Regions from separate parts of the Homo sapiens genome. Here region 2 is linked to region 1. The links come from fine-mapping of genetic effects on gene expression. A gene starts in region 1. The other region holds a variant in brackets. All regions are shown on one strand. Distances are between the middles of the regions.

Evidence for each region. PIP is the estimated chance that this variant, and not a neighbour inherited with it, causes the effect.
Region 2: its variant is the best candidate, but not a certain one, in a credible set for the expression of ARL4A in whole blood (INTERVAL, PIP 0.54).

What each region holds. Positions count from the first base shown.
Region 1 is chr7:12,680,816-12,693,756 of GRCh38, reverse strand. ARL4A (ARF like GTPase 4A) reads right to left here and starts at 6,124. Exons shown (of 2, transcript NM_005738.5): 1 at 6,029-6,124; 2 at 2,799-5,591. The coding sequence starts at 5,502. The coding sequence ends at 4,900. It also overlaps the pseudogene LOC100505995. RefSeq lists silencers at 6,560-6,609, 6,810-7,089 and an enhancer at 6,079-6,615.
Region 2 is chr7:12,709,899-12,722,839 of GRCh38, reverse strand. No RefSeq gene overlaps it. Among named protein-coding and RNA genes, the nearest start is that of ARL4A, 29 kb to the right of the region's middle. RefSeq lists enhancers at 1-56, 6,579-7,246 and a cis regulatory region at 1-125. The variant T/AT (reference allele first, on the strand shown) is at 7,857.

The DNA of each region.
Region 1 (12,941 bases):
CGAGACCAGCCTGGCCAACATGGTGAAACCTCGTATCTACTAAAAACACAAAAATTAGCCCTGCATGGTGGCAAGTGTCTGTAATCCTAGATACTGGGGAGACTGAGGCAAGAGAATGGCATGAACCCAGGAGACTGAGGTTGCAGTTAACTGAGATCATGCCATTGCACTCCAGCTTGGGTGAAAAGAGCAAGACTCTGTCTCAAATAATAATAATAATAGAAATCTAAACACTGGATGGATATTTGGTTATTTTGAAGAAGCATATTTTTTTTACATGTGAGTGAAATTTTTTTAAGTGATTATCTTTTAGACACATATACCACTATTTATAAATGAAATGTAATTTCCAGAACTCACTTCAAAATAATCTAGAAGTGGAGGAAAAAGGAAGGTGGCATGGAAGGAAGTGAATGGAAGTATAGAGGAAACCAGATTGGCCCTGAGTTGATAATTAATGAAACTAGATGACAGATACTTGGGTGTTTGTTATATTATTCTACTTCTGTATAAGATTGAAATCTGTCATAACAAAAAGTTAAGATTTTATCTAAAGGTAGACCTTCACTGAAATGAATCAACTTCAACATCTCTCTTCAACCACTAATACAGGTAATCTCCACTTCAGTGCAACATAAACAGGAGACATAAAACAAGACCAAAGACTGAAAGTAACTGGAAAATAACACAGCACACATAATCACCCACAAACACAACCACCATCATCAACCAGATGTGCCCACAGATACTGCAAATTTGATCTTATCATTCGATCAAATTTGTGAATTATAGATAACAATCTTGAGGCATTTTGAAGAACCATAATATATAGTTTCAAATTTTAATGTCTGAAAAGTGAGGTATTGTATTTTGATATATGCCTACACCAGAAAATAACCGAGATTTTAAATTAAATTTTATCTCTTACAGGGAAAGGTAAGATAATATTGTGTTACAATAAATTGGTACTTTAGAAACCTAAGTACCATATGATCCCTTGAAATGATCCATATTTCAAGGGAGTTCAGCATATTTAGACTTTCACTAAGTTCCACCAAGTTGCCATTTTGTGACATGTATGAGCTCACTATGTTATATTCCCCTGCCAAAACAAGTATTTTCTTTAAATACGTTGATCATAAGGTATTCTGGCTATTAATAACTATCAATTGAATGCTTACTAAAGTGTCAGTTACTCTGCTAAATATCATTGCTTGATTTAATCCTTTTAATCAGTTATACCCCAGTGGTAGATATATATAACCCACACTTTACAAATTAAGAAACTAAGGCTGCAAGTAAATTGCCCCAGATGAAATAATAAACATATTGATTCCTACTGGTTAACAATAGTAGGTCAGTTTTTATCAAATGCTTGGCAATATGTGAAAGTTTGTACATGTTATTTCAACACTCTCAAAATTCTATGAAACAGTCTTCATTTAACCAGGAGGGCATTCTCATCATAAGTTTCAAGGAATTTGCTAAAGGTTCATGTGTAATAACGGGAGAGCCAGGATTTGAACACTGATCTGACTCCAAAGCTCATGTTTTTAGCCAGTACATTTAACATCCTCCTAAACTAGCTTCCTGTACAGGTATTCCCATATTTTTAATGTGCATGCACAGAATTGAATACATACTCTGGCTATGGTTTGTTGAGACTATTACTTCTGATCTTCATAGATTTTAATATTAACATTATGATTTTACATTTCCAGAATGTTCCGCCAAATTTAAACCTTAAAGGTAAAATTCCAGCTTCAAATGATGGTGTACTCAAGATTCTCAATTGCATCAGCTGAATGCTGAGTTTTTACATCATATAAAGTTTGATAAAACTTTTTTTGCATCTTTATTATCGCTGATGAAATCATTGTTTACATTACAGAGGAAATTGTTGTATTAAATAGAATCTTGAAAAACCAAAGATTTCCTTCAAGGTCACCATGAATTATTAATGGAACAATCCTTGCATCAAATGTCTTGTACAGGCTGGGCATGGTGGCTACTTTCTGTAATCCCAGCACTTTGGGAGGCTGAGGCGGGTGGATCACCTGAGGTCAGGAGTTCAAGAACAGCCTGGCCAACATGGCGAAACCCCATCTCTACTAAAAATAAAAATTAGCTGGGCATGGTGGTGTGCCTGTAATCTCAGCTGCTTGGGAAGCTAAGACAGGAGAATCACTTGAATACAGGAGGCAGAGGTTGTAGTAAGCTGAGATTGTGCCACCGCACTACAGCCTGGGCAAGAGAGCAAGACTCTGTCTCAAAAAAAAAAAAAAAATGCCTTGTACAAACAAAGTCTATGCCTTTCCCTCTGTTGATAAACCATCACTCATTTACAGACCAGTAATTATTCTTATATATTATATATATATTTACATTAATAACTTCATTTTTTTGTCTCCCTATAAAGATTTAGTTCATTTTTCCATGATTAAGTCTTAGTAAACTTCTGATGGTTTAAGAATACCATTTATAAACCATTTTAAGAACTCTGCACATTTTAAAAATTATCTTTAACTATCAAAAGGTTTTATTTTTCTTACACTTTGTTCTTTGATATTAACTTGGATTCAGTTGAGCAGTCCTTAATATTTTGTATTAAACCAAGTAACTTCAAATACAAGAAAATATTTTAGAACTATGCACTAGAAAAGGTGCGCCATAAGAAGAAACTAGATATGAAAGCATAGTCTAAACTCTTCAGAATTTAAAGACTCATTATACTACAGTGTTAATAACTAGAATAGGCGGTAGGGAACTTGAACTTAGCAAGCTAGAAAATCTTAGGATGGGTTTTATAGCTGAAATTGTCTTTTATAAATCAAAGTTTGTACAGTGTTCATACCATTTTCTCTTTTGTTGTCCATGAAATATGAAAAACTTAGATAACATTAATTTGTTTACGTACTTAGGCTACAAAGGGTCAACACACAAGCTTTTGAAATACTTAAAAACAGCACTATTTTACATAGTAGGTAGACAGAAAGTACAGGCAAACTGGTAAATCTAATTGATACACAGATTTTTTTTTTCAGCAAGCTTTATTAATCCATCATGGATCTACTCATGTTTGCAGCAGATACCATGATTTCAGTATCAGTGAAGGGAGAAAAAAAAAAAAACAGCCTTCAATGCCTGTCACATCTAAGCAGATCTGAACTACTATGGGACTAAATAGCCTAGCTGGTCAATTGTTTTTACACATCTGATTAAAAGCTTCAGCAAAAGTGGAAATACATTAAAATTCAAAGTCAAATACTGTTCTCCTAGTGCCTCAAGTAGTTTATTGGTAGTTATTATCCACATTTCTATAAACATTCTAAGTGACCATCACTAGTGCAGGAATATTTAACATATGAAGGCTCCACATCAAGCTACTTCATTCATTTTGTGTGACACAAGAATCAAGGTTCCAAAAACTGTTATGCCACTGAAAAAAAAAAAAAACAAAAAAACAAAACCCAAAGCCAAAACAAATCCTGCTAGCAAAGTGCATTTCTTTTGGTGATTTTTCAGAACAGCTGTTGCTTTAGACATAAAAAATAAGCTGATTTAGTAAAATATGGTCACTGGAAGTAAGTGTCTGTAGATAAGAATTAGATAAAGGCCTTTCCTCCTTATAGAGCTTTTTATTCCAATGTAAACAGCACCAGTGAATTTTCATAAAACAGGTTTGTTATTTTCCCCTCATTTTCTATAATTGTAATTCTTATCTGCCATACTGTTACCATTTCTTCCTCTCTATAATCAGGACTGGACAGCCCATGTAACACTGTTCAATTTGTAAACAAAAAATTAAAGCTCGGAACACATACAGGTTATCTTTTACATTTTCATTCTACAGCGCATCAGGTATATTTATAAAGCTTTTGCTCTTCTCAACACACTACAAAAATATATAAAAACCACATTTGTTTTTAGCCAGCAAATATTAATAAAACAAATATCTTGTAACTGGAATATTTTAGAGACCACATATTTTAATTACATCCTCTTGACTAAATCGCCTTCTTCATAAATCCATATATGTATCCAGTGCATATTTATTAGTTTACATGCCCATATTTACTATGAATGAGTCAATCATTTTAGGTTCTTCAAGTGAAAGTGCTTCTGACAACAAACTATTCCTATAATAGCCCTAAATCCCCAAAAAAGTTGTTTTAAACCTGTGTAGAACGATGCATAGCTATTTCTAAAAAGTAAGACTACACACCAAAACATGCTTTGTCAGGAAAACTAATCCATGCACTTGAATATACCCCAAATATCTTATTTTTAATAAAGGTAGACCAACTTAAACATTGTCTAGAATTAAGCTATACTATTAAATTACTTGATTCCAGAAAGCGTCAAAAATCATTTGGCAGAAACTTAAAAAAGAAAATACTTACTCCTTGTCCCTTACTTCAAAAAAGGACTGGTTGGACCAATGTGATCAATATAACTGCATATATGTTAATCTACCTTAACATTTCCATCGATTAGCACTTGATCGTTACAAAGCCTTGTATGCAATTTTCTTGCAAAGGCTTCCCCCCGAAAGATGTAAGCACAAAACACTAGGCAGACACTCTTTAAAGTTTTATTTCACTAACTTCAGACCAAATTCCCACAACTGTGTTCTGGTCAATTTACTATCCTTGCTTGGCTTCCCCAAATGGTAGTACCAAAAGATTTGTGGGGTAGGGAGAAGAGACCACTTTAAGAAGCACTGCATTTACTCATCTTCCACAAGGCAACAGAGTTGGGCATCTGATTGTTCAACAAAACAAAGCTTTAATAGCATCCAGGAGGGCAGACAGGCAAACCACGCTGTAGACACTCTTCTATTTGTCAAAATCAGACCAGAGAAAACCTACTCCACACAGATATAATAGGTATTGATATTCATCTTTTCTTTTTCTGTTGCCGCAACATTTTTCTTCTTTTAATGATCATATCATGTAGTTTCTCAAGTCCTTCCTTTAGGCCATCTCCTATGATTGCACAGGTAGGCTGCAAATGCCAAGGAGTTGATGAGCTCAGTTCACCCATTGCTAACAATTTCTCAATTTCTGAAAGTGACAATGAGTTCCTCAAATCTTGTTTGTTAGCAACTATAAGTACAGGGACTCCCTGATTTTCTGATATCCTAGTTATTTTGTGAAGTTCAGTTTTGGCTTCTTCCATCCTTTCGACATCAACAGAGTCCACAACAAATACAATGCCATCTGTGCATCTGGTATATGACTTCCACAGTGGCCTTAATTTCTCCTGACCACCTACATCCCAGAAGTGAAAAGTGACTGTTTTAGAATTTCCCAAGGTTACCTTAATTTTCTCAGTGTTAAATCCTTTGGTAGGTACGGTATTTACAAATTCATTGAACTGCAGCCTGTATAAGACAGTTGTCTTTCCAGCACAGTCCAAACCCAGAATAACAATGTGGAAAGACTGAAATGAAGGCAGGTTGGACAGGATAGAAGTCTGGTCTGACAGCCCATTCCCCATTTCCAGGTGCAAATAAATGTCCCAAATTGAAATGCTTTTCTCTTCTTGGTTTACAACTTCTCTTGGTAGCTGATCCAGCTATAAGACTGCTGGGAGACGGAAGAAGGAATAAGTTATTCTCCCGAAATAATACATTAAAACAGGTTTGCTCTACTTTGCTAAAATAAACAACACGAAGAACTTACTATAACTTGCTGCGCTAAACAAACCAGACGAGATATGAAACGTACATGAAAACACACACAGTCCAAGACAAACGATGGAATAACAGTGATTGAAATTATCTGGTTTACTTAAATTGCAGTAATATGTACGTTTTTCTCCTGGGTCCCCAAACCTCAAAGACCTCATTCTGGAAAGAACCCAGTCACCAGTATCTGGTCTAAGTGGCCGTAACCACAAAGTGCCTATCTGGCAGAAAACTCATAGCAGATAGTCCTATCTTCGGAATCTAATTCCACATGCTTAACAGCATACCCAAGATCACTATTACCTCCTACCCCTTGCAAAATAACAACGTTCTCACCTCCCGATCTGGAGTCTGGGTCCAAATGAGAAAGCATTGGCAGGCGTTTCTACGCAGGGATAAGCACCCTTCCAGCTTAGCTCTCCAAGCAGCTCTGGCAGTTGCCGCACGAGAAACCTTGGACTCAGACTCCGACCACGCCCACTCCTCCCGGTCCACTCATGATCCCAAATCCCATTGGTCACCCGCATCAGGGAAGCCATGCAACTCCCGCCCCCGCTCCCTAATTGGTGAGGGTAACTGCCGCTCCCAGCGCGGCGGAGCTGAGCTCTCTCTCGGTCCACCGGCACCACCTGTTGCCCTTAAGTTAGAAAAGGCGGCGTTCCCAGAGGGAGCCGAGCAGCCGCTGCAGGTGAAGGGGAGCCTCGGGCGGTCAGGTCGCCGCCAGGCTGCCGGCTCCGTTCGGCCCGGCGCACCTGCAGCGCAGCCAGGGCGTCAAGCCAAGGCTCTCACATCCGGGGCCCGCAGTCACTGCCAACGCGTTAACCCTTTGTCCGCGGGCCCGAGGGTGCCGGCTGTTGCCGCGCGGGCCCCTGAGGCGCTAGAGATCCCACCTGGCGCGCCCGCCGGGATAAGCCCATCCTCCCCGAAGTGGGATCCCTTCACCCTGTCCCTCCGCACACGACCGGCTCTTCTCCCTCGGCAGGGCGTGGCCGCCCCGGCCGCCCACCCCGCCGCGGCTCACCTGACTAACCGTCCTTCCCTCTTCTTCATTCAGCGTCTCTCCCAGCCGCTGGGGAGGCGCGCTGATACCTGTTCCCTGGCACCAGGGAGGCGTGGGCGATGGCAGAGGACTGGGCGCCTGGCGGGCGCCGCGCGCCAGGCTGCCCTAACGGTGCTCGCCCGGCAGCTCCACGCGACAGTCCCCGCCCCCTGCCCGCGCGCCGCCCGGGCGCCGGCCTGTAGGGGGCGCGCAGGAGCCGCGTCTCCTAGCAACGCCAAAACAAGGTCGAGTTCGAATCGGCCTAGCGCTGGCTGCCCGCGAGGTCGGATGGGACTTCCGGCCTCACCCCTGAACGGTTGCTCCGGGTAGCTCTGTCTGCGGCGGCCCGCCAGCCTGGCACAGGCCCCGCCCGGCACCGCCTTCCCTCACGTCGTCTAGGGCGTCCGCGGGGCAGCAGCCACGTGATTCGCGGTTAGGGATTCCATAGTTCACGGGTTACGGCACACACGCGTTACGTATATATCGAGGTGACGTGGAAGTCCCCCAGTAGTTGACCTTAAACAGCCTGGGTTGACTGGCCTGGTAACTGCGCCTTCATTCGCTTTTTGTAGAGCAAATGAACGCGCTGTCTCACGTGTTTCTAGCAGCATCCCGGGGAACTGGCCACAGATAGAAATATTCCAGTTTGACACATAAGGAAATACACTCTGAAAGATGAAAGGGATGTTTCTTTTTTTCTTTTCTTTCAAATTGCTCACACAATTTTAATTGCAATAGATATAATTTCCAATATACCATTCAACTACACCATTTGTATGTGCTGGAGTGAGACAGGAGTATTTTGATTGAGTGTCCAGTTCTCTTTAAAACTAGCGTTTGCAGTTAACGACTTGGAAAATACAACACAAAAAGCCATCTAGCCTTTTTTTTTTTTTTAATCTCTATTTATCCCTTCAAAATTCCCTTTGTGGCCATATACATACTAGGTGGCTCTACCTGCAGAAAGCTGCATTTTCCAAGCAGCGGGAGAGTTTAATTCTTAACTTTCCTGTACTCCAGCCTCTGCTGGCTCCCTTGCATTTTTGTTTCCATCCTCTTCTTTGTCTTCTGTGCCTTTCGTTCTAGGTTAATCTGCGCAAGCTCTTCACTTTTGTCTGAATGTATTTTAGCGGTGAATTACTCCTTCTGGCTAAGAGCTTCACATCTTCAGTGTTAATGGTGGTGGTTTTCGCATGTCTTGCACACATTTCTAGATCTTGCACTGTCGAAAAGTCAGCTCCGAAATTGCTGCAATGATAAGTTTGCTGAACTGCATCTCTGCCCAATGCCACTTCCTCGCAAAGACAACCCACAGTGTAGTCCACTGCTGCCTCCTTTGGCCTCTGTTGGTAAGAAAATGGCTAAGAAAATCGCTGCTGCTCCTCCACCTCCACCTCCTCCTCCATCAGAACGGCGAGGCAAACGCGCAGAACAGAAAGGGGCTGTGGGGCAGCGGCCAGATTGGATTTTCTCTCCGCAGCCCCAAAGGGATGTTTCTAATGACCCAAGGAAAATTAGTGGTGGTCCTGGAACTGTTCATCTAAGTCTACTAGTCATCAAATGCAAAATGCTTTTCATTGGATGATTCTGACTAAATTTTGTCTTTGATCAATAAGTTCACAAATATTTATTGAACACCTAATAGGCAGTAGACACAATTCTGTGTGCTTGGGGATAAAATGGTGAGCAAAATACACTGTCCCTGCCCTTGTGGAATATTGGAGTCTCTATGGATGACTAAATTTATAAAATGTTTTCAGCGGTAATTTCAGGGTGCTTATGACAACCTGCAAAAGAAGTAATGACTTGAAGTTGTAGGAAAGCTTTAATCGACAAACATCTTTTTGGTGAAGGCTGTAAGACTGTAACTTGGAAGAACCTATATGGTACACTTTTTTAAAAGTGTGCTTTTTTTCTTTTTAAATATGGATTGGAGTTTCCTCAAGAAATATCCTAGTTTTTCTCAAGACCGCTATTGCCAGTGATATTTATTTCTTTTATGACTAGCACAGGAACATGCATACTTGTCATACCGGATTCTTTAAAAAGTCGAGACCAACCTGGCCAACGTGGGGAAACCCCATCTCTACGAAAAACACAAAAAATTAGCCAGGCGTGGTGGCGGGCGCCTGTAATCACAGCTACTCAGGAGACTGAAGCAGGAGAATCGCTCGAGCCCGGGAGGCGGAGGTTGCCGAGCCGAGATAGCGGCATTGCACTCCAGCCTGGGCAACAAGAGCGAAACTCCGTCTCAAAAACAACAAAAACAAAAACAAAAAACGACGTAAAAACCTAAGTTCTGAGCACAATGCATAATCTCAAGACAGCCACACTAATTTTGGGAATAAGAGCTAGAAATATCAAATGGCATATTCTATAAACATGAATCTATTATAAACTAAGGATTGCCTGATTAGTTATAATTGTGAAATCTCATTAGCCATTCACATAATCAGCTAATAATTGATAAAGGGCTTAGTGCAATAACCTATTTCCTTTTATTGGAAATTCAATAGGGATTCTTTATTAAACTGGGATAACTTGCAGATTCTCCTTAAGTCAAGAATTTAGAGCAAGAAAATTCTGTGGCCACCCTCTGTTTACAGTAGTTTTGAAATCTCTAAGTCCTTCCAGTGTTCCTTGCACAGTCTTCCCTGGAGCAAAAAGGGAAAAAAGGAAAACAAAAACACTGAGGGCTTCCAATCTTGCAGAATCGTCCTCACTGAATTGCACTTTAATGTTATACCCTAGGTTTTAAAACTACAGTAGTGGTTGGCAAACTGCAGCCTGTAGGTCAAATTCAGGAGATAAGAATGGTTTTTACAAGTTTAAAGGGCTGCAAGAGAATGGATAAGAAAAGAATATGCAATCAAGATCATCTATGCCCCCCACAACACACACATACAAAATAAATGTGCTCTCTGCCTCTGTAGAAAAATGTTTGGTGTGCCTGTTCTATATATAAAAACCATATGAAAACAGCAACAAATGATATTAAAAGCAATGGAATTTGTGGAACACAAGGTTCACTTTGTTGCCTGATCTTATAGAAGGCCCATTCAGAGCTTTTACTTACATTCTATGCCAGAAAAAAATTCCCTTTAGGGCCTGTAGCTTGTAAATAGTGCTCTGGGGTGCCTCAGAATTCCTAGGGGTTCTGTGGGATAGTTTAACTTTTTGAGGGAAACACAGTGACATCTGTTGGACCATATTAACAACTACAACTATCAAGTTTGGATCTATCAATTTCATAAATAGAAATGTTGGCTATTTATTTTGGCCTGAGGTACCATGAAAAAGTACTGAGGCACTAGGGCCTCTGCGAACCTCACCTTTAATTGTGGTTTTCCAAACTTGGCTAATGATGAGAATCACCTGTTAATGCTTGTAAATGTATAGATTCCTGGTTCCTCCTATTTCAGACCCCCCCAAATCAGAATCATCAGGAGAGGAGCCAGTGATCTGTATTTTAAGTAAGTATTTCAGATAATTAATGATTAGACACTTTGAAGAAATACTAATCATAAGAAATGGGTAAGTTTTCTCCTTTTAAATAACTACAACTGAGTAATTTACTTTGATTCTCTTTTTGAATTAAATATCAGGACCCAGATCAAATCTGATGCCTGTGTTCTGACTTCTAAGTAGAAGCTAAACAATGGATGCACATAGACATGTAGAGTGGAATCATAGACATTGGTGACTTCAAAAGGTGAAAGGGTGGGAGAAGGGTGAGGAATGAAATACTACCTATTGGGTACAGTGTACATTATTTGGGTGATGGCGACACTAAATGCCCAGACTTCACCACTACACAATATATCCATGTAACACAACTGCACTTATACCCCCTTAATCTATGAAAATAAAAATTAAAAATCAGATGCATGTAGCATTCTTCTTCTCTTACATAGCCTGATTTTTTATGATATACATAAGTTAAGCATGCACATACTGAAATCGTGTCCTTCCTCACCTTTGCCACAGCCTGTGTATGTGTGTGTATGTGTATAGATAGATATAGATGTATATGTTTAGGATACCTCACTTTAGTTGTTTCCATGCATATTTATTATGAGAATAATAGAGAATTTCTTAGAGAATTATTGAGAGGGATATAAACATTGATTCCCTTGTATCATTTTATTAGCATCCTTGCTAAACACATGGCCTTCCTCTTTTAGTTCCTGTTTTGGTTGACGGCAATTTATTCAGCAGTTCCAAGTGGAAATTTCAGGGCCATTTAAAAAATTATCCTATATCCCACTTATGATTAGCTATCAAGCTCCCTTTAATTCATGTCTTTCCATTCCCATTTCCACTACTTGGATCTGGTTTTTGTGACCTCTCACCTATACTAATTTACCTCCTAACTGATTTTTCAGCTAAAAAGCAGTGGAGCAGGAGTTTGTTTCCTGTGTCTGGCTCTGAGTCTCTTCTCTTACCCACTGTATTCTAGGGAGTTCTCATTTCGGTTAATTCATTTTGATCCATGGCAGCATAGAGCCAGGGTACAATTTTTGACAAAACTTTAGAAAGAGGATGTCAGAAGGGAAGTACAACCCAAAATTCACTTGGAATGGGTCCTAGATAAGAATTTCCGGAGTCCACAAGTCTAAACCCTCCTCCTGAACTTCTTTTATGGACAGCTTCAAGGCCTAGCTCCACCTAGTTTCAAGTCACAGGACAGTTTGTCCCTTCCTCTGGAAAAGCCTTCACATGCATATCCATACCTGAGTGCAGGTCCAACTGCCAGGAGGCCCAGTGGTAAAAAGGCATTATGCCACACTACAAGAGGCAGATCCAAATATAAGAAATAGGGACACAGAAAGTGAGTCTTGTGTAGTGTGGCATGATGCCTTTTTACCACTGGGCCTCAGAAGTCAAAGCACGAGACGTGAGATGTAAAAGGAAAGCAGCTTTTTTTCAAATGCTGACAGATGGAAGAATGGCTGGGCTCAGGCCTCGAACCATCTCAAGCTTTAGGCTGGGGAGAGGAGTTTTAAAATGGGAACCTGGAATGGAGGCAAGTGGGAGTAGTGCTGGGTACAAGGTCTATGTGTCTTGTTCTGGTGGCTGTCTTGAGTCATGGTCTACCTGGAGTGCAGGCTGGCATCAGAGTCTCAACAATGGCCAGGTTGTAGATTAACCACCTTGAGGTAATCTCTGGAATTTCACAACTGGGTCTTTGTGTCTAGTTTGTCTCAAGATTAGGCCCTGGGGCCAGGGCTTGTGGCTCACGCCTGTAATTACAGCACTTTGGGAGGCCAAGGCGGACAGATCATTTGAGGTCAGGAGTTCGAGACCAGCCTGGCCAACATGGTGAAACCCTGCCTCTACTAAAAATACAAAAATTAGCCAGGCGAGGTGGTGGGCATCTACAATCCCAGCTACTTAAGAGGCTGACGCAGGAGAATCCCTTGAACTCTGGAGGTGGAGGCTGCAGTGAGTTGAAACCGTGCCACTATACTCCAGCCTGGGCAACAGAGTGAGACTGTCTCAAAACAAACAACAACAACAACAACAACAAAAACTTTGGCCCCTTGAACTTCTAAGTAAGCACATAATTAGATAAGCTAGCAGGGCAAGGGAGTGTCTGGTGTGAAGGGCCGGAGACAGAGTTTTAAAGTATGTTTCAAGGCTAAAAGCAAGAAAGGAAAAAAGTTTCAATATGCATTTTGAAGCTAAACTACTTGGTTACACTGGCATGATTGACAGAACATCCAGTCCAACAGGGCCTCAATAGGGGGACACATCAGAACAAATGAGTCCTAATTATTTCCAGCTTTAACTAATATTGTGTGTTATATTTTATTTCTACAGTCCAGATCTGTGCACGCTTTTGTGCATTTCTGTCTTCTTCCATGAACATTTTAATCCTCTCTGTCACAAGTTTCCATGGCCTCTTGTTGGAGTACTCCAAGGCTCCTTAGGTCTTTATACTTTTTCCTTACGTAATTTCATCCATACCAGGGATTTAAACAATCTGTATTCTCCCAAATTTGTCTCAACGTAGACATCTTTCTTGAACTCTACAAATGAATGGCAGATAAGCATCTCAGCCCCTAAACCTGCTCTTTTCACTCAATATTTATCTCATTCATTAGAACCCAATATATCTACATCCTCATACATCCAACATGAACTCTCAGCAAGTCCTGTTGACATATATATTCAAACCTGACCACTTATCACCACCACCACTGCTGT
Region 2 (12,941 bases), 29 kb before region 1:
AAAAGATAAGTATATGAGAAATACTCAGCAAAATATATAGAAAAAAGAGCAGCCAGAATGATAGGAAGAACAGAGATGAGAATTGTGTCAAGAAATTTAAGCCAAGAGAGTGTATTTATAGGAGGAAGTTGGCAATAGTGTCAAATGCTGACATCTTAGCAGCATTTCTGAGCCAACTCTCTTCTTGGCCCTGAGGATCCCAAAAAGAACATGATATACCCACAGTTACGGGGGAGATACAACTACATCATACTAGGCACTAATTTTTATGTTGTATACATTTTATTTTACTTAAAACTTATATAGACTTATGTTTACTTACACTTGTAATATAGCTGTTATTATCTGTATTATTTATAGATAAAAATGAGGTTTACTGAGATTATATTTCTGGGTTGATATTAGTAAATGGCAGACTCATAATTCAAGCCCAGATCTGTCTGATTCCAGTGGCAATGCTCTTCTCAGCTATTGAGTATCACATTGCCTTTTACTATTGTGTCAGAGCACGTACAAGATGTTGAGGAAACATAAAGGAGGAACACATTACTCAGAAAGGTGGATACAGAAGTGTCAGGGAAGGTTGCACATCAACTGAGCCTTGAATGAGAAGAAATTGGCCAATCATACGAGAGTGGGAAGGGGTTCCAGTAAAGCAGTATGAGCAGGCAGTGCTGGAAAGAGAGAGCATCAACTTCAGGGAACTTCTGAAGCACAGGCTTCATGTAAGGGAGATAGGAGATCTGAGGGGGAATAAGTGAAGGTAGGAACTTTATCTTAAAGAGGAATCATCTAAGTATTTCGAACATGGGACTGTCTAGGGCGGATTTGTATAGAAAATTTATGGCAACAGTGTGAAGGATGAATTTGAGGAAAAGGAGGAGAGTAATCACAGGCAGACCAAGTGAGAGCCTCGCCAGTGATTGAAAATAGAAAAAAAGACCAGGCGCGGTGGCTCACACCTGTAATCCCAGCACTTTGGGAGGCCAAGGCAGGTGTATCACCTGAGGTCAGGAGTTTGAGAACAACCTGGCCAACATGGCGAAACCCTGTCCCTACTAAAAATACAAAAATTAGCCAGGCATGGTGGTAAGCGCCTGTAATTCCAGCTACTTGAGAAGCTGAGGCAGGAGAATCCCTTGTACCCCATAGGTGGAGGTCGCAGTGAGCCGAGATCACACCACTGTACTCTAGCCTGGATGACAGAGCAAGACTCTATCTCAAAAAAAAAAAAAAAAGAGAGAGAGAGAGAAAGAGAAAAAGGAGGCATGTCAGAGAGATGGGGAAGACACAAAGTAAAAAGAACTGGGTGGCTTGGATCAAGGGTGAGAGGGCGGTGACAGAGAGAGAGCCACATGGCATGAATACCAATTTTCTGACTTGGGCAATGGGATAGCTGGTAGGAAATGAAGCTGATATGGAAACAAACACTGAGAGTTAAGTTTTGGAGTTTGAATTGCCTGCAGAACTTCCAGGAGGACACATTGTAAACGTGGCTGGGTACATAGGTCTGGAACTTAACAAGAAGTTAAGGCCTGAAATCAGAGTATGTAAGCAACATTGATCCCCAAACTCATCTGACCACTAAACTCTTTGTCTAAAACGAAAAAGTTGTAGGAAAAGTTTATAATTCTCTCCTACTGGGAAAATTTGGAAGCTTTATCAGTGTCTCTTTTCTTCCCCATTTTTTTCAATAGTCACTGGAAAAAACAAGGAAGAAGGCAGAGCAGGAGCTCCTACCTGAATCTTCTCCATAGTCTATTATTTTACCAGAGATTTTTATCCATTTGCTTGAAAACAGGTGGGAATATCACTCAGAAGGATAGATTTTATCTAGTTAATACAAAAAATATTTTATGATTCATCCTGTTTTTTTATTCCCTACTTTTCATAAGTTTGTGAATCTCATTGCCAGTGACTTGGTTTTTTCTCAGGTTGTTTTTTTCTTTTTTTGAGATAGAGTCTAGCTCTGTCACCCAGGCTGGAGTGCAATGGCGCGATCTCAGTTCACTGGGACCTCCGCCTCCCAGGTTCAAGCCATTCTCCTGCTTAGCCTCCTGAGTAGCTGGGACTACAGGCGCATGCCGCCACGCCCAGGCTAATTTTTTGTACTAATTTTAGTAGAGATGGGGTTTCACCGTGTTTAGCAGAGATGGGGTTTCACTGTGTTGAGGGGTGTTGAGGACTACCGTGTTGCCCAGGCTGGTCTTGAACTCCTGAGCTCAGGCAATCCACCCACCTCAGCCTCCCAAAGTGTTAGGATTACAGGCGTGAGCCACCACGCCTGGCCATGTTCTCGGTTTTGATGTATAATTTGGATTAAAGAGAGAAAAGGGAAGAAATTATGATTGTACCATATTTTGTCTTGTGATATTTTCAATAATCAAAACAATTTAGCTGTCATGTGAAGAATTCTGTCATCAAGCAGGCAAAAATCAATCCACAAAGAATGATAAGGGCAATGTTTATCCTGCGAAGCAACAGGCTGCTAAAATATTGCTTTCATTTCTCTCTAACGGCAGCAATCCTACAGAAAAAAATATCACATCATTTATTCTTGGTGTGATGTAAGTTTTTTTTAGGGTCTTGCGGCGGGAGGGGGGAGGCGGTAACATTGCACAATTTTTTAAAGTAATACTTTTAAAAGGGAATTTCCATAACAACCCTGTAATTATTAAGTGGAAATGGCTTCATTGCTAGACAGGAAGGCCTATCCCAGCCAAAAAAAAAAAAAACCCTCAGTAGATTTCCGTTTGAAAATTACTCTTGAGAATCTAAAGTAGTAAAAATAAGTAAAGATTATTCTAGTTCATGCAGCTAGAGGCTTCTCCCCCTCATTTTTTAGCATGAATGCCACTTTCTTTTAGAAAGATAGATTGTACAAACCAGCTCTCCTTCTGTGATGCGCTTAGTATGGATGAAGATACAAAGGAAAGGTGAATCTTTATCATCCTTCAAACTTTCATTGAATTGTCAAAATTAGGAGCATTTGCTCTTTTTTTTTTCTCTCACTAGATTTCTTCTGTTTTGGGGAATTCCTATAATTGTGCTCTCCCCACCCCCACCCCCACCACCCACAGTGACTCAGGATCATATTATAAAGGTTACAGTTGAGACAATTTTAACAGACTCGGGTTGAATTTGAGGGTACTTAGTCATCATAGCTTCTAGTATATTTGATTACTCCCTAAAAGGCCTACTTGGCAAGTGCACGTTGTCTAAACTCGGCTGGCACATTCAGGGAAAAAATAAAGTAAAATAAAACCTGCTGGACTGATCTTGAAGAAAGGTCTCATATCAAGGAGGGATGGTAAATCACATAGGCCAAGTTATTTCTTAATCAGTAAGAAAAAGACAAATGATAGAGCAGAAAAAGAAGTCTTTGGACTACAGTCATGACTGATAAAAGCATGATCTTTCCTTTCTGATTCTTTACATGAATGTGCAAGTCAAGGGCGTCAGGAATATAAAAACTCCTGAAAATTTGGCAAGGCTGTGTAGTAAACATTACTGGGAAGACTGCGCAACCCATGCATCACCAACTGCCTTCTCTGAAAATTGCCCCACCCATAGCCATGCCTGAGACCTGATCATAGAACATGATTATTATCCTATTCTGCCTGTGGAGGATCAGGATTTATAGCTGACATAGCCTGATCCACAGTGACTTTTCCAGGCCAGGGGCTGGAATTGGGATCCAGCCCTGGCCACCAGCCCTAGGAAAGTAATACACAGCAGAAAAGCTAGTCTGTAGAGAGAGAAGAGAAGAGCTATGGAGAGGTACAAAAACAAAAGACTATGAAATGGCTTGAACAACAAGGTAAATAGTGGTTTAATTAGTTGGACAAGGCTAGGATAGTTAAAAGTCCTTTTCCATACATGTGACAACCATTTTAATTAAACATACAAAGGGAGATGTGGATTAGACATCTGAAACCAGCGGAGATGTCAGGATGGAAGACAGAAATTTTAGACTCATCAGCATAGAGATCGTTTTTAAATTCATGGGGTTGGATGAGGTCAACAATGAATAGAAAATGGATAGAGAACAGAGACTGAAGCAAATCCAAAATGCTGTAGCATTTGGCAATTGAGTAAAGAAGTAAAAATTAGCAAAGGAGAACAAGCAGGAACAGCAAGAGAGGTAGAAAGGAAATCAGTTGAGTGTGATATCACAGAAGCCGAGAGAGTAGTGTTTCTAGAAGGAGTGATCAAATCAGCTCAATCTTACAAAAACAATTAAGATAAAAATATTAACACTTCTTGGAACTATTTGTATTTAGTTTTTCTTATCAAATGAATGTTATTTATACTGATTTTGACTGATATTAAGGTTTCATATCTAAAATAAAAATATAAGTCAAAAACTTTTTAAATGCCTCAGACAGACCCAATTGGCTTTAGTTAAGAAAAAAATTGGTTCAAGCCAGGTGCAGTGGCTCATGCCTGTAATCCCAGAACTTTGGGAGACCAAGACAGGTGGATCGCTTGAGCCCAAGAGTTTGAGACCAGCTTGGGCAAAACAGCCAAACCCCATTTCTATAAAAATATAAAAATTAGCTGGATGTGGTGACTTGCACCTGTAGTTCCAGCTACTTGGGAGGCTGAGGTGGGAAGATTGGTTGTGCCTGGGAGGTGGAGGTTGCAGTGAACCGAGATTGTGCAACTGCACACTTCAGCCTAGGCGACAGAGACAGACGCTGTCTCAAAAAAAAGAAGAAGGAAGGAAGAAAAAAGGAAAAGAGGGACGGAGGGAGGGAGGAAGGGAGGGAGGGAAGGGAGAAAAAGAAAAAAGCGGCTGGGCAAATGGTTCATTCCTGTAATCCCAGCATTTTGGGAGGCCAAGGCAGGAGGATTGCTTGAGGCCAGGACTTTGAGACCACCCTGGGCAATACAAACATCCTGTCTTATGCCTAGTGGATGTGTCTGTGTGGACGTGCACACACATTGGCTGATGAACCCCCCTTCCTGTTTTACAAACAGGCTCTACAAACAGACAAAATATATTTACAAAAAAGATACATCCATCTATACACACACATATATTAGCTGTCTATACAGCTATCTCTACAAACAGACAAAATATATTTACAAAAAAGATACATCCATCTATACACACACATATATTAGCTGTCTATACAGCTGTCTCTACAAACAGACAAAATATATTTACAAAAAAGATACATCCATCTATACACACACATATATTAGCTGGGTAGCCAGGTGTGGTGGTGCGTGCTTATAGATCTAGTTACTTGGAAGGCTGAGGCAGGAGGATCACTTGAGCCACAGAGTTTGAGTTTTCAGTGAGCTATGATTGTACCATGGCACTCCAGCCTGGTACGGGGTGACAAAGCGAGACCCCATATCAAAAAGAAAAAGAAGAAAACAAACAAACGAAAGGGTAGGAGCAGGTTGTTTTACAACAGTTTTTTGTAATAACTAAAATTGGTAGGTGTAGATTAGTCTAGGTGTGAGATTCTAAAAAGAAATGTCATCATGAATGTTTTCTGAGAGTCACTTTGAAGAAGAGTTAGGATATTGTTTGATGGATGATAATGAATGTCCATTCCAGGGAGGGGGTCTGAATGCAAAAAGGAAGACTTAAAAGAGGTCTGCACAGCTGGAGCAAAAATGATCCCCAAATAATTTTATGAAAACTGTTGCAAAGCAATAAAAGAGGCAATGGTGATTGTGCCAAGCGTATGCGGGAGAGAGCTTGTTGGGCCAGTGGAGAGAGGTGCTTACTTGTCCGGTAATATTTATCAGCACTTCCCCTACACCATCTAAATAAAAACAACGTGCTTCCTAAGTCAGCACTTCAAAGCAAGTCTTCTGACCCCCTAGTTTGACCAGACTGGCCTCCAAGCCCTACTTTATGCTAAGGCTGCTGTAATTAATGGGCCACGTTTCTTAGCAGATGCAATCTTGAACTCTGGAGACTACCAGATCTTGCTAGAAGCTCTGTTCTCCCCATTATTAACAGTGTGGCCATGTCTAGAGATTTAACATCTCTAAGCCTCTCTTCCCTCATTAGTGAAAAGAGGATTACAGAAGTGACTTCATAAAGTGATGCTGAGAATAAAATGAGAAAATGAGCATAGCATTTAGTATAGTGCATGTAATCACCATTCAGTAAAAGGCAGTTATTTATAGTTATTTGAATTCAAAATGTAATAATTATGTAAGATGCATTTGAGTCTGTAACAGGGTTTGAGGAGAACAGGAATACAATTAAAATCTCATGAAGATGATTGCTCCCAGGCTGGAAGGCAGGGGACTTACGCTGCCAACTGAAGCTCAGTGTCCAAATTCAGCCGTCCTTCCGCTACACCACTTCTTTCCTACAGCTGCCTGTGCACCAATGGTCATTTACTGACCGTATATATGTGTGTGTGTGTGTGTGCGTGTGTGTGTGCTATACATGGATGTGTGGGGTTTGTTTTGTTTTTAAAAAAAAAGAAAGAGTAGGTAGGTGTATGCGCCCCTGTGGTTCCAGCTACTTGGGAGGCTGAGGCAAGGGGATGGTTTGGAGACCGGAGTTTGAGCCAGCCTGGGCAACATAGTGAGGCCCCCTGTCTAAAATAAATAAATGAAACATAAAAAATAAATGAATAGATTTTTTCTAAATCAAAAAGCATTATTCCATTTTTTTCTCACTGTCATTGAAATTTTTTTTGGTAATAAATGGATTTCTGAGCCTGTTTTAAATGACAGGGTCTGTTGTTCAAAGCCCCACTAGCACGGTAAGCCATTAAACCAGCAGTTGTGAAGCTGCATTATAACACAGGGACAGTCACTCAGCTCAACACTTTACATTACAATAGGCAAGCCTCTGTGAGGCAGCTTTGAAATCCCAGAACTGTGGTCAAACTACGGACCTCCTGGAAGGACAAAGTGTTCTGTTTGTGTAGCACAAGGGTGTGGCTTTTGTAGCTAGTAAAATAATCTGAACACAAAGGCCTCCAGATCCTGCAGAGCACTCTGCAGTGAACTGACTCAGCGGAAAGCGGTGGGAAAGGAAGCTGGTTCTTAGATTTCAGAACCCTCCAAAGCTACACCCACCTCGCTTAGTTCTGACCCTGTGCAACAGGAAGGGGGTTTCATCAGCCAATGTGTGTGCACGCCCACGCAGACATATCCACTAGGCAGAAGACAGGATGAGAAACGCGGTGGGAAGGAACTCTAGTGGAGCCCAGTGCCGTCTCTTTGCAGCCTCTTGCCAAACTCCTGCTTTTTCTTCCTTTCACTGATGCAAAACCTAGTTGCTCTCATGGATTGAGGGAGGGAAGCCCTCTTATGATGTGGAGCCACTTTTAGCAACTGCTCTGAAAGAGGCTGCAAAATCAAACATCCCAGTTAGCATTGGGTGGATTGCTGAATATTGTGAAATAATCATAGAAGCTTTGATTGTCGATGTCCACTGGAGATCTGTGTGCCGGGAGCAAAATATTGGTATGTTACACATTTCATGTACGCAAATTAATTGGACAGTTAAAATCTATCAAAGGCGTCAATGGTAGGCTTTTTCTGTTTCTATTCACACACAGCCCCCACTGCCACCACCAATTTAGGCTTCATCTCAATAAACAGAATACATGTTTAGAAACTTATATAATTTAAAACCCTCTGATCCCTGAAAATTAAGAAAAAGGGGTCTGAATTTTTCATAATCAGTCCATATTGAATAGATTCCCCTCCTAATTGCTCAATTTTAATTTCATCAGATCATTTTGCCTAAAGACCACTTAGCCACCATCACCAAAAAAATGTGTAAACTTCTTGTGAAAAAGACTATACATATCAATGATCTGTGGAACTTAAATTCCAAGGAAACACATATTCAGAAAAAAAAA[T/AT]CATTCACTAGGATAAACCAGAAACACTATATTGATTTACCTTTCCTGAAACTACTAAAAAGTCCAGTAACTTAAGAACACATTTTTAAAATTTAATTCATTAAATTACATATAATACATTTCCAAAAAAGTTCAAAATATGCATGGACAGTTAGCAGAAGCTTTATTGTGAGATTTTTGCGAAAAAAAATTTATAAAGTTAACCCCAAAGCAACCTAATATGTTGATAGTCTCCTGCAAATTAAAATTCAATACACTATTGAATATTTTTATTATAGTTTTGAAAACAAAAGGTTAAAATACCTATAATTGGTAAAATATATGACTTCCCTTCCCTTCACCAAGATTACTAAATGTAATAGAGTGGGTTTTGTGTATGTGTGTTTGTGTGTGTGGTTTTTGTTGGACAGCGATTTATTTCAAAGCTTTTCTTTGTATAACTAGATTACATGACTCCTTTTCTAAATGTTCTGAAGGGCACAATTGGGAGCAGTAAAAGATAAACTGCACTGTCTATAATTATGTGATAATAGAACTCCAAGAAAGGTGAAGTTTCTTACAAAGTATATGGGAGTTAGAGAATATTTCTATCTACAATGTACTGTCCTTGAGAATGAACATTTGTCTTTGGAAGATGTGTATTCACCCAAACAGTGTGTACTGAATATGTAGTATACACTAGGCAGTGTTTTAGGTTCTAGGAATACAGTGGGGAACAAGGCAGAAAACTTTCCTACTCTCTTGGACCCCATAGCCCAGTGAAGGAAGACAAACATTAAACACATAAACAACTAAGTAAACAAGAAAATATCAAGTCATGGTAAGTGCAAGGAGAAAATTACAACAGAATGTAATTTTACTTAGCAAATAAAAATGCAGGAGACTGATTTATATGTGTGTGTGTGTGTGGATGTGGAAGGATGGCTGGATGGATAGATAAGAGAGTTCAGGAGAGAGAGACACACACATCAGGACACACTACCCCAAAATATGGCACCTTGGCATATTGAATATTTTAAGCTGAAGGAATTTGAGAAAATAGCATAAGCAGGAAGGTCTCTGTGAAGTTCCGCCTCCCTTCTCCCCTGAAGCAGATCATAAAACCTAGGAAGCATGTTCTGACCTTCCCTTGAAGCAGTGCATAAGATCCTTATGTGAGAGGTGCTTCCCTATTCCTGGAGGAAAGGAATATCCTTATCTCCAAGGACACAGAGTCACAGAGAGTAATCTGAACAAATAAGCCTTGACAAGTTTCTCCCAGCTCATTACATGTAGCTCATATCCCCTTTGTCCTATCATATTTCTCCATGACTTTCCACTCTTCATCAAACCTACTATGGAAAAACACTCAAGTTTAAAACTGTTTATTGAGTTTTCATTTCCTTCTGAAGGTTCCCTTGTCACGGAAAACTGATATTAAATAAATGTGTATGCTTTTTGCTTGTTAGTCTTTCGTTTGATACAGGGGTCTCGAGCACTGAACCTAAAATAAGTAGAGTAAAACTATTTTTTCTCCCCTACAATACACACACACTCTTAATGCTGCTAGGACCGTGGTTCCCAATCATGATACCGTGAACCCACAGGAGTGTTATAGTGTTTTTAAATTTTTAGGGGAACACAGAAATATCAGTCAGACACTACACAAACTGCTACTACTAAATTTGGGCCTAACTACTTAATAAACGAATGAGGTATTCCTATTTTCCTAGAGTCACCATGAAAAAATTACCAGATATTAAGGGTGGAATGAACTAGGAACATTTGAGAATCTTTGTGCTAGGAACATCTTTAATGGCTATGTGTGTACATAAGAATGGCTTTGTTGCATTGTTTTTAAATTAAATTGAAACCATATTAAAAAGAAATACTTTCAATCTGTTTTTCTTTCTTCAAAACAAATTTTACAAACTTACTCTAAGCAAATCCTCAACTAGATTTTCATATTTCAGTTTAGCATTTATATTTACTGCCATTGTGACTTGGAACATATCATATTACTTTTATGCCTCAAATTTTTATATTTTAAAAGACCTATATTTATTATGATTGCAGATATTGTAACTTAAAATATAATGATTTTAGATATTTGTTGGCAAAAATACAGAATATGTTATGTTTCTTGATCTTTGTGTTACAAAAGTTTAAATGAATAAACTAATGTACAACTTATAATTTTATTTCTGCCATGTAATATTTATACCAGTAAAGTTTAGCAAATGATAAACAAAATTTCAATAAGCTTACGAAATTGCTGAATTTCAAAATGAAAGTCTATTGTCATTTCATTTCACCTGCTGGGAGACAGACACACTAGGTTTTCCAAGGAAGATAAGAACATACTGGAAGATTGCTGTGAAAAATTTAAAAGAAAAGGTACCAACTCCATGTCCTCTGTCAGACTTTATAGTTTTAACTGTACATTACCAAACATTTAAGAGTCAACAGAATTCAATTACTTGCCAAATCCTTATACAATGTCATTAGCTAACAAATCTGAGGACAAAGGTCTCCCTAACCATGTTACAGGATGTTCCTCCAGTGGTTTCGATAGTTTGCTAATTATCTACATTACACAAGAGTCATGAGCATTACAGAGGCAAGTCTAGCCTGCTATGCTTTATTACTGCTATAATTACTGCTGTCGTTTTCTCAAGTACTTTCAGTAAATGCTTGTCAAATGACAACTTTAGCTGGAAAATTAATCATTATTTTAAAATCAATTGTTATTGTGAGCCTTAATATTTCTATCACTAAATGCAAAATAATACTTATTACCTTTTTTCCTGAGACTGTGTAATAAGGGTAGTATTATAATTTGCTGAATTTTATGCTTGATAGTATCATTGTGAAAATATTTTTCTTACTAATAACAATCCAGAACGGAAACACTCAGAAGAGTATTTTCCTTTAACAACTTTGAAAACAAATTTTCAAAAATTTTTATCTACTCACACGACATTTACCTTTTTTATCAGTTGTGAGTGAAACCAACAGGAATAAAATGAAGGCCTTAAAAGAATGAACAGGCCGGGTGCGGTGGCTCACGCCTGTAATCCCAGCACTTTGGGAAGCCGAGACGGGCAGATCACGAGGTCAGGAGATTGAGACCATCCTGGCTAACACGGTGAAACCCCATCTCTACTAAAAAATATACAAAAAAATTAGCCGGGCGTGGCGGCGGGTGCCTGTAGTCCCAGCTACTCGGGAGGCTGAGGCGGGAGCATGGCGTGAACCCGTGAGGCGGAGCTTGCAGTGAGCCGAGATCGCGCGGCTGCACTCCCGCCTGGGCCACAGAGCGAGACTCCGCCTCCAAAAAAAAAAATTAGCCGGGCGTGATGGCGGGCGCCTGTAGTCCCAGCTACTCGTGAGGCTGAGGCAGGAGAATGGCGTGAACCCGGGAGGCGGAGCTTGCAGTGAGCCGAGATCGCGCCACTGCACTCCAGCCTGGGTGACAGAGCGAGACTCTGTCTCAAAAAAAAAAAAAAAAAAAGAGAATGAACAAGGTGGTTGTGCTTGACTTGGTGACTCTCTGGTTTTAAAAGTAGCAGTGAAGAAACCATCTAGATTCAAAGTAAGTAATGATGAGTAATTCTACCTACACTAAGATAGGAGTCCAAGACGTTGACTGAGGCAGAATTTCTAGATACATAGAAACGAGCAGAAACCTAGAGACAAAGGGACTGCCAAGCTGAAGTCGTTCGTGTGGCTATTCAAACATTTTGAGTTTACATGAATTGCCTATGAACTCTGTGAACTTCTAAGCCATAAGAAAAGTGTCGGCCGGGCCGGGTGACTGACGTCTGTAATCCCAGCACTGTGGGAGGCCGAGGCAGGTGGATCACCTGCGGTCAGGAGTTCTAGACCAGCCTGGCCAACATGGCAAAAACCAGCCTCTACTAAAAATACAAAAATTAGCTGGGCGTGGTGGCTGTAATCCCAGCTACTTGGAAGGCTGAGGCAGGAGAATTGCTTGAACCCGGGAGGCAGAGGTTGCAGTGAGCCGGGATCATACCACGGTACTCCAGCCTGGGCGACAAGAGCGAAACTCTGTCTCAAAAAAAAAAAAAAAAAGAAAAGAAAAGTGTTACTGTGCTGTGTCCAAGATATAATCATAATGAGCCCTTCATGCAAACTGCATCCTGTTACAACCAGCTTTCAATAGGCCTGAAATGCTTGTCAAGATGTGACCCATTATCCATGTCCCATATCAAATATACACAGATGATTTCAGTAGTAATACTACTACTTAGTTTAAGAAGTATTTTTATATTATAAAATATATAATTGGGGTAGTGGTATGTTTTAATATTTAAATAATTGTCCATTTCTATAAGGCATAGAGAAATGTAGCTTTAGTGGATTTTGTATTACATGACTATTCCCTTTTTTATCATCTCAAAGCATATTTTTTCTTTCTAAATTGATTTTCTTTGAAAATTGAACATATCAAGTTTTAGAAGGCCAGTACTGAGAAGGCATAATGGCTTCCTGAGCTAGAATCTGAGACTCAGTTATTACAACAGAGAATCTATTTATCTCTCTGATGATTTAGGGCAGAAAACAGGTTGAGAATCAGTAGTCTGGATTTATTTATTCTATTTGCACAATGTAATACTGAACCAATTTCTCCAAGTGCCTAACTTCCTTTCTTGGAAGTTATGGAGCAATAACTTTTAATTGGAGAGTGATAAAACCAACCCACATTCCACATTGTTGAGATGCTTAACTAATAAGCATGTTTTAAAGGCACTTACACAATGGAGAGCCCTTTAACCAAAAAAATAAAAATTGATTTGCCTACTAAGTCCATTAACTGTACATAATGACACAATTTATTTGCACAAGAATTTTAGAATATTGGCAGTATTGGGTAATATAAAGATTTTGAATAGTGGCTTTAAAAGCCACCAAAAAATACAGTACTAAAAAAATTATATGGTATTAAATATAATAAAATTCCGTTCCATTGCAAAGTCAGAGGTTATATGCAAAATATGCGAAAGGCTCCCAACCTGAGGGCTGGAAAAAAACAGGGCACCAGGCCTATAAGGAATAGTTGTGTTTCCTGTTGCTCAGTAACTG